Regions from separate parts of the Homo sapiens genome. Here region 1 is linked to region 2. Evidence: fine-mapped expression QTL. A gene starts in region 2. The other region holds a variant in brackets. All regions are shown on one strand. Distances are from middle to middle. Region 1 has its middle 26 kb from the start of FOCAD. Region 2 holds the start of FOCAD (focadhesin).

The links. PIP is the estimated chance that this variant, and not a neighbour inherited with it, causes the effect.
Region 1: its variant is fine-mapped to the expression of FOCAD in whole blood (TOPMed, PIP above 0.99).

What each region holds. Positions count from the first base shown.
Region 1 is chr9:20,653,687-20,662,019 of GRCh38, forward strand. It overlaps a transcript of FOCAD not described here. Among named protein-coding and RNA genes, the nearest start is that of FOCAD, 26 kb to the right of the region's middle. RefSeq lists an enhancer at 5,000-5,059. The variant C/A (reference allele first, on the strand shown) is at 4,833.
Region 2 is chr9:20,680,916-20,689,194 of GRCh38, forward strand. FOCAD (focadhesin) reads left to right here and starts at 3,344. Exons shown (of 44, transcript NM_001375567.1): 1 at 3,344-3,378. It overlaps FOCAD-AS1 (FOCAD antisense RNA 1), which reads right to left and starts at 3,835. Exons shown (of 2, transcript NR_121601.1): 1 at 3,653-3,835; 2 at 2,387-2,626. RefSeq lists a silencer at 2,947-3,646 and an enhancer at 3,046-3,786.

The DNA.
Region 1 (8,333 bases), 27 kb before region 2:
ACTTCTTTAGAAATTGGGGCCAATCCTCTCAAACCCTGCTTTCTTTGCTCATCCATAAGAAGCAACTCCTCATCTATTCCAGTTCTATCATGAGATTACAGCAGTTCAGTCATCTTTAGGCTCCACTTTCTTTTTTTTTTTTTTTTTTTTGAGACATAATCTCACTCTGTCGCCCAGGCTGGAGTGCAGTGGCAAGATCTCGGCTCACTGTAACCTCCGCCTCCTGGGTTCAAGCGATTCTCCTGCCTCAGCCTGCTGAGTAGCTGGAACTACAGGCGTGTGCCATCACGCCCGGATAATTTTTTGTATTTTTAGTAGAGACGGGGTTTCACCGTGTTAGCCAGGATGGTCTAGATCTCCTGACCTCGTGATCCGCCCACCTCGGCCTCCCGAAGTGCTGGGATTACAGGTGTGAGCCACCCGACCCTAGGCTCCACTTCTAATTATAGTTATCTTGCTATTTCTGCCACATCTGCAGTGATTTCCTCTACTGAAATCTTGAACCCCTCAAAGTCACCCATGAAGGTTGGAATCAACTTTTTCTAAATTGTTCATGTTGATATTTTGACCTCTTCCCATGAGTCACAAATGTTCTTAATGGCATATATAATGGTTAACCCCTTCCAGAAGGTTTTCAATTTACTTTGCCGAGATCCACCAGACAAATTACTATCTATGGCAGCTGTAGCTTTACAATAACGATAGTAATAATAAAAGAGTTGAAAACTGAAATTACTTCTTGATCCGTGGGCTGCGGAATAGATGTCGTGTTAGCAGGCATAATAGTAACATTCATCTCCTTGTACATCTCCATCACAGCTCTTGTGTAACCAGGTACATTGTCAGTGAGGATGAAAGGAATCTTTTTTTTTTTTTTTTTCCTGAGCAGTAAGTCTTTACACGGGGCTTAAAATATTCGGTAAACCATGCTATAAACAGAAGTGCTGTCATTCAGGCTTTGTGATTTCACTTATAAAACAGTGGCAGAATGGATTTAGCATCATTTTTAAGGGCCCTAAAATTTTCAGAATAGTAAGTATGCATTGGTTTCAAATGAAAGCCATCAGCCCCTAACAAGAGGGTCAACCTGTCTTTTGAAGCTTTGAAGCAAGGCACTGACTTCTCCTCTTTAGCTATAAAATTTCTAGATGGCATATTCTTTCAATGGAAAGGTGTTTCATCTACACTGAAAATATGTTGTTTAGTGTTCCTCCTTCATCAGTGATCTCAGCTAGATCTGGATAATTTGCTGCAACTTTTACATCAGCACTTGCAGCTTCACTTTGCACTTTTATGTTTTGAAGATGACTTCCTTCTTTAAACTTCATGAACCAATCTGCTAGCTTCTAAATTTTCTTCTGCACCTTCCTCATGTGTCTCAGCCTTCATAGAATTGAAGAGAGTTAGAGCCTTGCTCTGGATTAGGTTTTGGCTTTAGAGAATGCTGTGGCTGGTTTGATTTTATATCCTGACCGCCAAAACTTTCTCCGTATCAGGAACGAGGCTGTTTTGCTTTCTTAGCATTCATGTGTTCACTGGAGTAGCTCTTTTTAATTTTCCTCAATAACTTTCCCTTTGCATTCACAATTTGGCTAACTGATGCAAGAGGCCTAGCTTTCAGCCTACCATGGCTTTTGAGATGCTTAATCGTTTTTAGCTTTTGATTGCTAGTGAGGGATGAGTGACTCTTCTTTTCACTTGAACGTTTAGAAGTCTTAGGGTTATTGGTCTAATTTCAATATTGTTATTTCTCAGGGAATAAGGAGGCCTGAACAAAGGGAGAGAGATGGGGGAATGTCTGATCTGTGGAAGCGTGGAACAATCAGGACACACACAACATTTCTCAATTAAATTCAAGTCTTCTAGGGTGTGGTTTGTGGTGCACCAATGCAATTGCAAGAGTAACATCAAAGATCACTAATCACAGATAGCCATAAGAGATAAGACATTTTTTATTGTGTCTATTAAATTCTTCTCTCTTTTTTTCTTTATTAGTCTTGCTAGCGGTCTATCAATTTTGTTGATCCTTTCAAAAAACCAGCTCCTGGAGTCATGACTTTTTTGAAGGGTTTTTTGTGTCTCTATTTCCTTCAGTTCTGCTCTGATTTTAGTTATTTCTTGCCTTCTGCTAGATTTTGAATGTGTTTGCTCTTGCCTTTCTAGTTCTTTTAATTGTGATGTTAGGGTGTCAATTTTAGATCTTTCCTGCTTTCTCTTGTGGGCATTTAGTGCTATAAATTTCCCTCTACACACTGCTTTGAATGTGTCCCAGAGATTCTGGTATGTTGTGTCTTTGTTCTCGTTGTTTTCAAAGAACATCTTTATTTCTGCCTTCATTTTGTTATGTACCCAGTAGTCATTCAGGAGCAGGTTGTTCAGTTTCCATGTAGTTGAGCGGTTTTGAGTGAGATTCTTAATCCTGAGTTCTAGTTTGATTGCACTGTGGTCTGAGAGATAGTTTGTTATAATTTCTGTTCTTTTACATTTGCTGAGGAGAGCTTTACTTCCAAGTATGTGGTCAATTTTGGAATAGGTGTGGTGTGGTGCTGAAAAAAATGTATATTCTGTTGATTTGGGGTGGAGAGTTCTGTAGATGTCTATTAGGTCTGCTTGGTGCAAAGCTGAGTTCAATTCCTGGGTATCCTTGTTGACTTTCTGTCTCGTTGATCTGTCTAATGTTGACAGTGGGGTGTTAAAGTCTCCCATTATTATTGTGTGGGAGTCTAAGTCTCTTTGTAGGTCACTCAGGACTTGCTTTATGCATCTTGGTGCTCCTGTATTGGGTGTATATATATTTAGGATAGTTAGCTCTTCTTGTTGAATTGATCCCTTTACCATTATGTAATGGCCTTCTTTGTCTCTTTTGATCTTTGTTGGTTTAAAGTCTGTTTTATCAGAGACTAGTATTGCAACCCCTGCCTTTTTTTGTTTTCCATTTGCTTGGTAGAGCTTCCTCCATCCTTTTATTTTGAGCCTATGTGTGTCTCTGCACGTGAGATGGGTTTCCTGAATACAGCACACTGATGGGTCTTGACTGTTTATCCAATTTGCCAGTCTGTGTCTTTTAATTGGAGCATTTAGTCCATTTACATTTAAAGTTAATAGCGTTATGTGTGAATTTGATCCTGTCATTATGATGTTAGGTGGTTATTCTGCTCGTTAGTTGATGCAGTTTCTTCCTAGTCTTGATGGTCTTTATATTTTGGCATGATTTTGCAGCGGCTGGTACCGGTTGTTCCTTTCCATGTTTAGCGCTTCCTTCAGGAGCTCTTTTAGGGCAGGCCTGGTGGTGACAAAATCTCTCAGCATTTGCTTGTCTGTAAAGTATTTTGTTTCTCCTTCGCTTATGAAGCTTAGTTTGGCTGGATATGAAATTCTGGGTTGAAAATTCTTTCCTTTAAGAATGTTGAATATTGGCCCCCACTCTCTTCTGGCTTGTAGGGTTTCTGCCGAGAGATCCGCTGTTAGTCTGATGGGCCTCCCTTTGAGGGTAACCTGACCTTTCTCTCTGGCTGCCCTTAACATTTTTTCCTTCATTTCAACTTTGGTGAATCTGACAATTATGTGTCTTGGAGTTGCTCTTCTCGAGGAGTATCTTTGTGGCGTTCTCTGTATTTCCTGAATCTGAACGTTGGCCTGCCTTGCTAGATTGGGGAAGTTCTCCTGGATAATATCCTGCAGAGTGTTTTCCAACTTGGTTCCATTCTCCCCATCACTTTCAGGTACACCAATCAGACGTAGATTTGGTCTTTTCACATAGTCCCATATTTCTTGGAGGCTTTGCTCATTTCTTTTTATTCTTTTTTCTCTAAACTTCCCTTCTCGCTTCATTTCATTCATTTCATCTTCCATTGCTGATACCCTTTCTTCCAGTTGATGGCATCGGCTCCTGAGGCTTCTGCATTCTTCACGTAGTTCTCGAGCCTTGGTTTTCAGCTCCATCAGCTCCTTTAAGCACTTCTCTGTATTGGTTATTCTAGTTATACATTCTTCTAAATTTTTTTCAAAGTTTTCAACTTCTTTGCCTTTGGTTTGAATGTCCTCCCGTAGCTCAGAGTAATTTGATCGTCTGAAGCCTTCTTCTCTCAGCTCATCAAAGTCATTCTCCATCCAGGTTTGTTCCGTTGCTGGTGAGGAACTGCGTTCCTTTGGAGGAGGAGAGGCGCTCTGCTTTTTAGAGTTTCCCGTTTTTCTGTTCTGTTTTTTCCCCATCTTTGTGGTTTTATCTACTTTTGGTCTTTGATGATGGTGATGTACAGATGGGTTTTTGGTGTGGATGTCCTTTCTGTTTGTTAGTTTTCCTTCTAACAGACAGGACCCTCAGCTGCAGGTCTGTTGGAATACCCTGCCATGTGAGGTGTCAGTGTGCCCCTGCTGGGGGGTGCCTCCCAGTTAGGCTGCTCAGGGGTCAGGGGTCAGGGACCCACTTGAGGAGGCAGTCTGCCCGTTCTCAGATCTCCAGCTGCGTGGTGGGAGAACCACTGCTCTCTTCAAAGCTGTCAGACAGGGACACTTAAGTCTGCAGAGGTTACTGCTGTCTTTTTGTTTGTCTGTGCCCTGCCCCCAGAGGTGGAGCTTACAGAGGCAGGCAGGCCTCCTTGAGCTGTGGTGGGCTCCGCCCAGTTCGAGCTTCCCGGCTGCTTTGTTTACCTAATCAAGCCTGGGCAATGGCGGGCGCCCCTCCCGCAGCCTCGCTGCCGCCTTGCAGGTTGATCTCAGACTGCTGTGCTAGCAATCAGTGAGACTCCGTGGGCGTAGGACTCTCCAAGCCAGGTGCGGAATATAATCTCGTGGTGCGCCGTTTTTTAAGCCCGTCGGAAAAGCGCAGTATT[C/A]GGGTGGGAGTGACCCGATTTTCTAGGTGCCGTCTGTCACCCCTTTCTTTGACTCGGAAAGGGAACTCCCTGACCCCTTGCGCTTCCCAGGTGAGGCAATGCCTCGCCCTGCTTCGGCTCGCGCACGGTGCATGCACCCACTGACCTGCGCCCACTGTCTGGCACTCCCTAGTGAGATGAACTCGGTATCTCAGATGGAAATGCAGAAATCACCGTCTTCTCCATCGCTCACGCTGGGAGCTGTAGACCGGAGCTGTTCCTATTCGGCCATCTTTGCTCCTCCCTGCAACTAACTCCATTCTTAATTGGTAGGTGATTCTTATGGGTTGAATTGTTTTCCCCCAAATTCCTATGCTGAAGTTCCAACCCCTAGTACCTCAGAATGTGACTGTATTTGGAAATAGGGCCTTTAAAGAGGTGATTAAGTGACAGGGTGTGGTGGCTCACGCCTAGCACTTTGGGAGGCTGAGGTGGGTGATTGCCTGAGCTCAGGAGTTCTAGACCAGCCTAGCCAGCATGGCAAAACCCCATTTCTACTAAAAATTCAAAAAATTAGCTGGCTGTGGTGGTGTGCGCCTGTAGTCCCAGCTACTTGGCAGGCTGAGGAAGGATAATCACTTAAACCTGGGGGGCGGAGGTTTCAGTGAGCCAAGATGGCACCACTGCCCTCCAGCCTAGGGAACAGAGTGAGACTCTGCTCCCCTCCCCCCGCCCCACACAAAAAAATTTAAAAAGAAAGTTAGCCTGGCATGGTGGTGTGTGCCTGTAGTTCCAGCTAATTCGGAGGCTGAGGCATGAGAATCGCCTGAACATGGGAGGAGGAGGTTGCAGTGAGTCAAGATGGCGCCACTGCACTCCAGCCTGAGTGACAGAGTGACTCCATCTAAAAAAAAAGAGAAAGAAAGGAGAAAGAAAGAAAGAAAGACAGACAGACAGAAAGAAAAAGAGGTGATTAAGATATAAGAAGAGGAAGTTTGGCCAAAGAGACACCCAGGATGTATGCACATAGAGGAAAGATCATGGGAGGATATGGTGAGAAAGTGGTCATCTGCATGTCAAGGAGCTAGGCCTCGGGAGAAAGCAGGCCTGCTAACACTTTGATGTTGGATTTCCCTGCATCCAGAGCTGGAAGAAAATAAATTTCTGTTGTCTAAGTCACCCAACCTGTGATACTTTGTTATGGCAGCTGTAGCAAACTAATGTAGTAATAGTCATTGAAAGATTTTATGCAGGGAAGCAGTCATTTTGATGGCATTGTGAAAGCATTGGAAAGCAGTGAGATGCAGGTGGGCAGATCAGTTAGGATATTGCATCAGTCTAGGCAAGAGATGGGAAGGGCTTGACTAAGGCAGTGACCATCGGAGTGGTGCAATGAGATATGAGAGATAGCTCAGAGGTAAAAATTAATGGAGAGAGAGTGGATAAGTTGGCAACATTTTCCAGGTTTCTTGCTCAAGTGGCTGGGTGAATAATATGCCATCAAGGCCTGAAGTAAGAAATATAGGAAGATAATTCAGTTTTGTTTTCAAGATAATGAGTTTGGTTTTTTGAGATGTTTTCTTGGAGTACCTGTGGGACATCCTTATGGACAGGTTCAGTGGTAGCTAAATATCCAGATGTGGAGACGAGGAGATAAGAGAGGCTACAGACAATAACTTGTGAGCCATCAGCAATAATAACAGCAATAATAGTAGTTATGGTTAACACTTAACCTAGGGCTTATCAGGCGCCAAGCAATATTCTGAACCCTTTGGATGTCACATATCCTTACAATGACCTATGGTGTAGAAACTACTGTTATTCCCATTTTAAAGATGAGGAAATTGAGGCAGAGAAAAAATACCCAAAGTTACTCTCAGCCAGGAAGTGTAGAGTCAGGCTATGAGCCCATACAGTCTGGTTTTAGGGCATGTATCTTGACAAGGTGATTTGCCTCTTCATGTAGTTGGTAGTTAAAATTATGGAAAAATATTCAGATCCCTTAGAAAGAAGATTTCTATAGGGTGAGAAGAAAAGAAGTCAGTATAAAATCTGAGGACATTTCAATACCAATATGTAGAGATCAGCAGAAAAAGAAGATCCGAAGAGACAGCAACAGTTTGGTTAGAATGATGGAAGGAAGACCAAGATGAGAAGTGGCCAACAGTATCAATGCCACAGAGATACCAAGTAACAGACTCAGAAAAGTGTTCACTGGATGTGAAAAGTAGGAGAAAGCTGGTAGCCCCAGCAAGGGTCATTTTATTTGGGTTTGAGGGAGAAGGATCAGAAGTCAGATCATAGTGACTGGAGAAGTTAGAAAAAGAGCATACAGAAATAAAAGAAGAATTATGGCAGAGAAGGATATGAGAGGCAGACAGTCAAAGAGAAAGAGAGAGAGAGAGAGCAATTTGGGCAAAAATTATGGGGACATTCCATGACAAGACTGTGATTAAAATGGAGTGGTTGAACATGTTCATAGACCACGGGAAAGGAGTCAGCAGAAGAGGGGAGGTTTAAGACAGAGAGGAATAATTTGAGAAGGGATGTTTTAGAGAAATTAGAGAAGTAGAATTAAGAGCACAGCTGGAGAGCTAAGGAGGCTGTGGAGATGTTTGGCAATGGCAACTGAAAATGATGGCATTCACTCTGATGTTCTTGGTCTTCTCTGAGAAGTACGGAAGCAAAGTTATCTGAAAAATGTGGTAGAGGAGAATGGGTTGGGAGACAACCAAAGACTAGTAAAAGGACTGAGAAGTAGCATGAAGGGCTCAATAGACAGGAGAAACATTGAAATTGTAGTGTCAGCACCACTTAAAGATGTATGATAGTCTCCAATGTGCTGAGTTCTGTAGGAGGAAGAGTAGACAACATGTATTATAAGATTGTCTCAAGACTGGGTTTTGCAGCAGGCTGTGATAGAAAAACCTGACTTGGTTGTGAGGAGTGGGGAAAGGGAGGTGTTAAAAATGAGGGAATTTAAATGGTTGGGAGGCAGTTGTTCACTTGATGGGCCAAGGAGCACAGACTAGGCAGGTAATTAAAGTCTAAGAGGGAACTGTTAAACTGAGATATTCTCAGTGTCCTTCTTTTTCTCACTATCTCTCTTCCTACTGTTTTACATTTTGTCACACTGGGAAAAAGAGGTCAATATTTAGAAAATCAGCCATTGTGTCTAATTTTCATATTGCTAAACATAGGATACATTGAGTACATATTGCTGCAAGCCCTATGGAAGTTAATTCAGTAATACCAGATTACAAAGGCATTTACACTTAGACTCAGAAATTCTACTTCTGTCACTTTATCCTACAGATATACTTAGGCAGGTACAAAATGATGTGGGCAAAAGCACCACTGTTATTAGTAAAAGCTTGGAAACCTCTGAAATGGCCATCAAAAAATGCTGCTGTAAAAGAAAGAATGAGGAAATTCTTTATATATTGACATGAAAAGATAACCAAGATTAAGTGAAAAAAAGGCAAGGTACAAAACAGTGGTAGAGTATGCACCTTTTGTCTA
Region 2 (8,279 bases):
TTGAGCTCAGGAGGTGAGGCTGCAGTGAGCTATGATCGTGTCACTGTACCCCAGCTTGTGTGACAAAGTAAGATCCTGCCTCAAACCAAAACAAAGCCAAAAACAAAAAACAGCCCTGCCCAACCACAGCCCCCCACAAAAAGCAATTAGTCATATGACATTGAAGAATTGAAGATGAACCTGTATCCTTTTAGAATTTTAGTTCCCTTCTGTGTAATTGGCTTGATTAGATTAAATCAGTGAAGCGTAAAAAAATTTTGAGTTCCAACATAAGACTTTAAGCTTACTAAAATAAAATTCCCAACAAGTATAACCTATTATCATTTCATATGAGAAAACTTCTATTTTCTTTTTTTAATAGAGATGGGGCGGGGGCCCTCACTGTTGCCCTGGATGGTCTTGAACTCCTGGCCTCAAGTTATCCTCCCACTTGGCCTCCCAAAGTGCTGGGATTATAGGTGTGAGCCATCATGCCCGGCCTGAGAGGGTACTTTTAACATTAAAACAAAACAAAAGAACAAAGCATAATCTCAGGAAAAGGACAGTCCTTTAAATTGAATAAATTTATTTTTATGAAAACTTAATACATTGTCCATATTTTTTAACTTCAGAATTTGTCAGAGAAAACTTTGTCATGAACTGGCAACTTCTGAGATCCTTTCTAGTTCTAAAAGCCTATCTCTCTAGTCTTGTCAAAATAAATCTGGTGGCTGCTGACTTGGTCTCCAGAATGAGCTGGCTCCATAAGGCTCTAGAATACGTCTTTCATCTTGGTATCTCCTGTGCCTACCACAGTGCCTGGTATAGCATTAGATTAAATAAATTAAAAGGTGAAATGATCCCTGCTGAATTGCAGTTCCTGTATGGAAGGAGTATACCCCAGAAGGAGGGGGTGAGCCCATGGACTTCCAGCTTAACCCTAGATCTGCAGTAAAAGCAGTCAAATCGGTTCTAGGCTCCAAGTTTAATGGTCAAGTTTCTCAATCCTGCCCAAAATCTGAATCTAGGATAGGTGTCTGCTGTGGCCTACATGTTTGTGTCCCCCAAAGTTAATGTGTTGAAGCCTAAACTCCAATGCAACAGGATTAAGAGGTGGGGCCATTGGGAGGTGATTAGGTTATGAGGACTCCTGTCGTGCCCTTATAAAAGACGCTTCAGGTAATCTATTTCCCCTTCTATCCTGTGATGATACACAGAAGGCACCATCCATGAGGAATGGAACCTCACCATATTCCAAATCTGCTGGCACCTTGCTTGGACTTCCCGGCTTGCAGAACTGTGAACAATAAATTTTTATTGTTTATAAATTACCCAGTCTAAGATACTTTGTTATAGCAGCCTGAACATAATAAGACGGTGTCAAAAGTAGACTCAATATCATTCTTTAAATGGGCATTTCCCTGTGTGTTCCTAAAACCAGGCTTTCTACAACAGAGGCAGTACGTTTACTCATTGAGCACCAGGGTGCTTGGATTCAAGTTTTGGCCTGGCCATTAGGTAGGTGCATGACCTTGGTCAAGATGCTTCACTTGCTGTACTTCAGGTTCCTTATTTATAAAATGTGGGTAATAACTGTAACTGCCTCATAAAGTTGTTCTGTGGATTAAATAAATTTATATACTTAGAACAGCGCTGTTTACAGAGTTATGTGTTTAATTATAATTTTGACTAATGAGCCTCAAGAAATATAGGAATAGAAGAAAAAATATTAAAATAGTCCTAAAAGAAATACTGGTGCATTTGGAAGACTGAAAGAGAGTATCATCAAAGTCCATAAAAAGGGAATTATAAGCCTTATAAAACTCCTTTGAAGCAAAGGATAACAGAGGTTGAATAACTTTAAGTAGGTTCAATATTGATTGATTGAATGATTGATTGTGACAGTCTCACTCCATCAGAGGCTGGAGTGCAGTGGCGCCACCTCGGCTCACTGCAACCTCCGCCTCCCGGGTTCAAGCGATTCTCCTGCCTCAGCCTCCTGAGTAGAGTAGCCGTGACTGCAGGCGCGCAACCCCACGCCGGGCTAATTTTTGTATGTTTTTTTTAGTAGAGATGGGGTTTCACCACGTTGCCTAGGCTGGTCTTGAACTCCGCCCTCCTCGGCCTCCCAAAGTGCTGGGATTACAGGTGTGAGCCCCCCCACCTGGCCCCAAGATTAATTTAGATAAATTCTTAGAGGGTGAATGCATAGTTGGTTATTGGGAAAACTGTTAACGGTCTGTGATACATAATTACTTTTCTGAGGTGATGGGGAACCAAATTCTTCCTACAAATGAGAAACAGAACTTCTTGTCTACACATTAAAATGACTTTGGAAACTTAGAAAAATATCAATGTCAAGATCTGGCAGCAGACCTTTTTCAACCAAGTGATGAGGCCCAGGCACTTGTTTTTTTATTTTTATTTTTTCCTAAGGGTGCCCCAGGGTTTAGAAACAACTAAGTCAGATATTTTTAGAGTAATTTGTCTTAACTCTTTCATCTTGCGTAAAATTTCCATTCTGTCATCCACAACCGGAATTCCACTCCGTCATACCAGTCTCTCCTCGTTTTTTTCTGCTGGCTCTTTTCAGCGTGTTTCATCGTGGCTGCTGTCTGTCTGTTACAGCCTTCTCACGTGGGAGCCCCTGCCCCGCCCCACGAGAAAATACATGTTTATCATTCAGTAAGTATTGCGCAAAATCGTAACAGAATAATTACTCGCGCCAATTCCCCCCAGATTAGATCAGCAGAAACACTTGGGCTAGAACTACCTCAGGACTATCTAACAAGTGGATATACCACAGTGGCGTGGAGAGCTGCAGTGTTATGTGTTGGCCAAATGAAGTAAAGACACCAAGTAGCTATTAGGCGAAGAACGAAGCGTCTTCGCGGCAAGTCGGCTGTCTGCTTTAAATTTTCTGAATCCTTAATGTTATCAGTATTATTTATTTCCCCCGAGAAACAAAATCTCCAAATACCAAGAAGCTGTTCTGTATTGCCAAAAGCTGCATAGGGGCAGGCTGCCAACAGGACTACCCGGGCACGCTGCAGTGGCATCTCTAGGCAGTTTCCTTTAATCTGATTTTCCTTGGGCTAACTCCTCACTGCGGTGCTGCTCCACAGCCAGCCCCCGCGCGCAGCCCTCCCCGCACCAGCTCGGCTGCAGAGCGCGGGTCCGCCGCCCACGCCGCCTTTCAACCGCAGTGCGCGGCCCGGGCCTTAGACGCGCGTGCGCGCGAGCCGGGGAGGGCGGGCCCCAGCCGGAGGAGGCGGAACAGGGCCTCGCGATATGCAGCCCATTGGCTCTCTCCTGCAGTCCCCGCCCCCGGGCGTTCGAGGCGGCGGGGCGGGCCACGTCAGGCAGCCGGCGCTGGGCTGAGCTTGTGGCAGAAGGGAGGTAAGCCGTGCGGGGCGGCGGGCTGCCACCGCTGCACCCCTGCTCGGGAGCCGCCGGGTCGCGCCGCCTGCGGCCCGGTCGGCTTGCATGGAGGGCGGCTGAGGCCCTGCGGGGCTGGGGCTGAGCTGGGAGACGGGGCAGTGGAGCATGTGGCGGCAGGGCCGCGTCGCGGCGAGGGGCAGCCGGGAGGGGGCTTTTTGCCCTCGTCCGGTCCTGCTGGGGCTCTCAGCTTCTGGAGGACTAGGCCTTCTGAGGTTACGGAGCTCCGAGATACCTGGGCAGGGCTGGCTGTGGTGACTGCGGTGGGACTTAGTGGGATCTCGACTCGGAAGCCGGTCGGCGCGATCCTTGCATACTTAGCTGCAGCAGGTTGCAGTCGTCCCACTCTCCTTCGACCGGTTCCCTAGTTGGGGGCAGAGCAGGAGATTCTGGCCGCGTCCTGCCTGGCCTGGGGTGACTGTCTCCTTCTCATTCCCGGTGACTCACTCAGATCATGTCCACTTATAATGCAAAGGCTTATGGGTGAGCAGGGCCTGTTTTCAGTCTCCTAGTTCTCTGGCTCCGTCCGCACTTGCGGCAATTACTTGAAGAAAGAGTATGTTAGATGTATGTTTTGAAATTTTCGCAGCAGCTAACGCGTGGAGACGTGCAGTTATGTTGCATTTACCCTTCATGAGTTTTAGTTTCAGCTGTGGCGTCCTGATATCTCAGTGTGGTTCCTGAATTTGGAGCTTTTGAAATGAATGAAATCCTGCCAATTTCATGCAGTCATTCATTCATACATTCCAAACTTTTTTGATGGATGCCTTAATGGTCAGCCTCATACCAGGTATTAAAATCGGCATTTCCTGCGTTTTATTCCAGTTTATATGTTAGTTTTATTGTCTAGATTTGAGTTGGAAATTTTTTTTTTTTTTGTTATTTTCAGGTTCTAGTATCCCTGAAACCATCGTGGCTCTGAGGGTGTAATCCTGATAACTGTATCAGTAATGACTCCAGGTTTCAGTGGCCTATCTGTAAGAAGAGGAATGGGATTAGTATAATTTTGAGATTTTCCAGGAGAGGAGGGTAGATGGCATGTTTCCTGAACTGTGTTAACAGGAAGTAACTATTTTAAAAACACAGGATGCATTTTATGATTATGTTTTACTGTGTCAACGAACATTGTATCTGTCCACATTCACTTTTTGACTACCAAGCAAGTGCATGTTTACAATTTTGATTCACATCCAATTCCTGCGTAGAAAGCACTGTGACTCATCTGAATTTTGAAATGAAGTAATCATGAGCTTTTTAATGTTACATACAAAGGTATGATATTGAAACAATTGCATAAAAATGCAATTTTCAAAGCATTTTCACTTGCTTTTATAGATTAGTGGAAGCTAAAACCTCTGCCTTGATTATTTGCTTACTTAATCAATGTTAGGTAGTTACCATCTCTTGGCTAATGTTTATCAATATTATATCTATTTTAACATTTGTTTCATTAACCCCAAATTTACTGGATTTTAACTGATTGTTGTCTCCAGTTGACGCCTGATAACCAAAAGGTTATCAGGAGGAGCTGGAGGAGGCGGAACACAGCCTCGCGCCCTGTAATAAATAGTTTGAAATCAAAATTTTCATGGACGTATAACCAGAGTTTTTCATTTGTTGATTGATTGATGGTGCTTACCGGTAAATCGTTTGGCCTTTTTCCCCGTTTAAAATGATTTATGAAACAGTCTGAGACATAATATTCTTAGCTTCATGATACTTTTGGGATATTGTCCACAAGTGATTAGTTGAATTAAATTGTTAATATCACTATTAGGAGTTTGGAAAATTTAAGAAAATATAACTTCTTAAAATTTTGCATTTGCTATTTTTTTGTTTGTTTGGAGACAGGGTCACTCTGTCGCCCAGGCTGGAGTGCAGTGCTGCGATCTCGGCTCACTGCAACCTCCGCCTCCCAGGTTCAAGTGATTCTTCTGCCTCAGCCTCCTAAGTAGCTGGGATTACAGGCGCATGCCACCACACCCAGCTAATTTTTGTATTTTTAGTAGAGACGGAGTTTCACCATGTTGGCCAGGCTGGTCTCGAAATCCTGACCTCAAGTGATCCCTCCGCGTTGGTGTTACATCTTTCAGTTCTAGAAATGGACCTGATCAAGATTGCAAGGTTAATGGGGAAAATTCAAGAGCTGAGGACATTAACCTTCTAGCGGGAAAAAACCACAATGAGAAATAATAACTATATTTGGAGGAAGTGTAAGGAAATAATAGTTTAAGGATTATTAGTCTATAACAAATCTTGATCTTAATCAGTATTTCTTGATGTATAACAAAGAACTTGGTTTAAGCACAAAAAGAAAATTAGGGTGATAATTTAAATTTTGATCAAGTGGGTAGTAAGTATTTCTTTAGGAGATGAGAAATCTATAGATCTAGAGATGCATGGTATAATAAAGTATGGTATACTTATATGAGTATAAGTCTGTGATTCACAATTAGTAATAGATTGATGGAGGTTTTGTTACTATTTCCACATGATAAGAAACAAGATTTGCTAAGCTGATAGGACAAGGGATATTTGTGAATTTCCTCCATGTAAATGATTTGAAACAACAAAGTTTTAAGTGATGTGGAAGAGCCCATCTATTTTCAAACAATGGATTGAAATGTAGTTTTTGTAACCCTCTAAGTACTTCTGGCCTCATAGTTTTTTTTTTTTTTCCCCCTACTCAGGTCATATTGAAAGTAATAAAATTGTGTTTATGATTTTAAAAGTTTATATTGGCTTTCATTTAATTAGTCTGAGTTACTTTAGTTTTATATATTTTGAAGATGTTCCAAAACCCTTGACTTTAAATACTGTATAGCTTTCCATTGTTCATGAAAGAAAACATTTCTTTAGGCCAAAGGAAATTGAGAATCCAACTTGCATAGATAGTCAGTTTATTACTATTATTTAAAGATTTATCTTTTTACTTGCCCGGGGACCAATGAAGCATCCACTGAAGCTCCTAAACTGGAGAAGGTATCTTCTAATCTCCTTTTGGTCAGATGAGTTCTTGCTAATTTGGCTGATACATATGTTGAACAAATGTAATACAGTAATTGTGGGTGTTGTAACTGTAGTTTTATGAAGTTTTTTTGGTTGCCAGGGTGTATCTTTCCCTTCTCTCTTGACAAACCTTTCTATTTGGCCTACCTGCTTTCATAATTTATTCTTAAGTTCTACTCTATTTCCCAATCATTGCACATGTTGGTTTATGTAACCAAACCTGATTTTAGTATATGCTATTAGGACATACACGTGGAGAAGAATGGAGGAAACTTTTTATTAAATGTTTTTAATTGTTGAAACACTTAAGTAAATGTGATTTTTAAAGACTCATAGTTATTAAAGGTATTGTATTCATTATTTTTTATTTATTCCTTCATTCAGCAAAGACAGCAACTACTTTGGTGCTAGGTCCTTAACTTATCTTTAAGGAACTTACAGTATTGCATGGACTTCATAAACAACACCAAAATACAATGGGATAAACATTATAATTAGTCGTTCACATAGTATAGTGGGGGATAGAGAAAACTGTGTGCAAGGTTTGAGGAGATTCAGAGAAGGCTTTATGGAGGAATTTTCATCTGAATTGAAGTTTGAAAGTGAGTAGGAATTAGTTGGTGAGGTTAGAGGATAAGGCATTCTGGGCACAAGAAAGCAGTGAGGACAAATAGATAGGTTAGAAACGGGACATAGACCCTTAATGTGTTAAGATAGAGAATAGATCAACTTTAAAAAGTAAACAAGGGTAAATAATGAAAGTTCTCTTCCACACCGTGTTAGCCATTTTGAGCTTTAATCTGGAGGCTATGTTGATCCATGAGTAATAGATTTTAAGTGGAAGAAAGTTAACATCAGTTTCATGAGGCAATGTGAGGAATGAATTGTAGTGGGGTAAGGCAGACATTTGCATTACATGTGACAGAACTCCGAAAATGCAGTGCTGCTGGAGAGAAGAGGATGAATTCCAGATATATTAAGGTGATTGAGTTAGTGGCCAGATGGATGTAGGGGATGAAGGAGTGATGGAGTCAAGGATACCTCCTAGGTTTATGACTTGCCGAGATAGGAATCACATGAGCAATATCAGATGTATGGGGAGAATAAGATCAGTAGTCTTGGACATGGGTTTAGGTCACACAATTGGTGCTGTTCAGTGGGTATTTGGCTGCTTTGGCCTGGAGTTAAAGAGAGGATTCTAGGCTGGAGATAGAGATTAGGATGCTATCAATTTATAGGTAGTTAAAACAATGTGAGAATGGATGATGCCTAAGAGAGTTTGTAGAATAAGAAAGAATAAAGCAGAAGGGAAACGCTGGGAAACACTACCCTGTAGGAAAGATGACCCAGTGAAAAAGACAGAAGGAACAGCCTAATGACAGTGGATGTCTAGAAGATAAGGAGGGAGAGAATCCAACAAGAAGAGACTGGTCAGATGCCATAGGGAATAGGAGAAAGAGCTAACTACAGTTTTTGGAAGGTTTCCCAGATAGGCCTGGATCATTAATTTGTAATAATACTAGTTCATATGATTCTGTGACTTTTGGCAGCAAAATTCAGTAGAACCAGAGATGATAAATAGTTGGATTGATACAGTATTTGGATTTTGTTACGTGCGTATGGTAAGATTGCAAAGGAGTTGAAACTATTGGTGAAAGAATGGTCAGAGTGATGGAATGTGAAGTTTAGACTGGATAGGGATGACGATAGAGCCAGGAGGAGCTGAAAGATTGAGATAACATAATTGGTTCAAAGGATTAAAAGTCTGGATGAAGTAAATATACAAGTGTTTGTAGCTAAAAGGGAGATAATGAAAAGGATAGAAATCCTCTGGTCAGAGTAGAATATTGGAA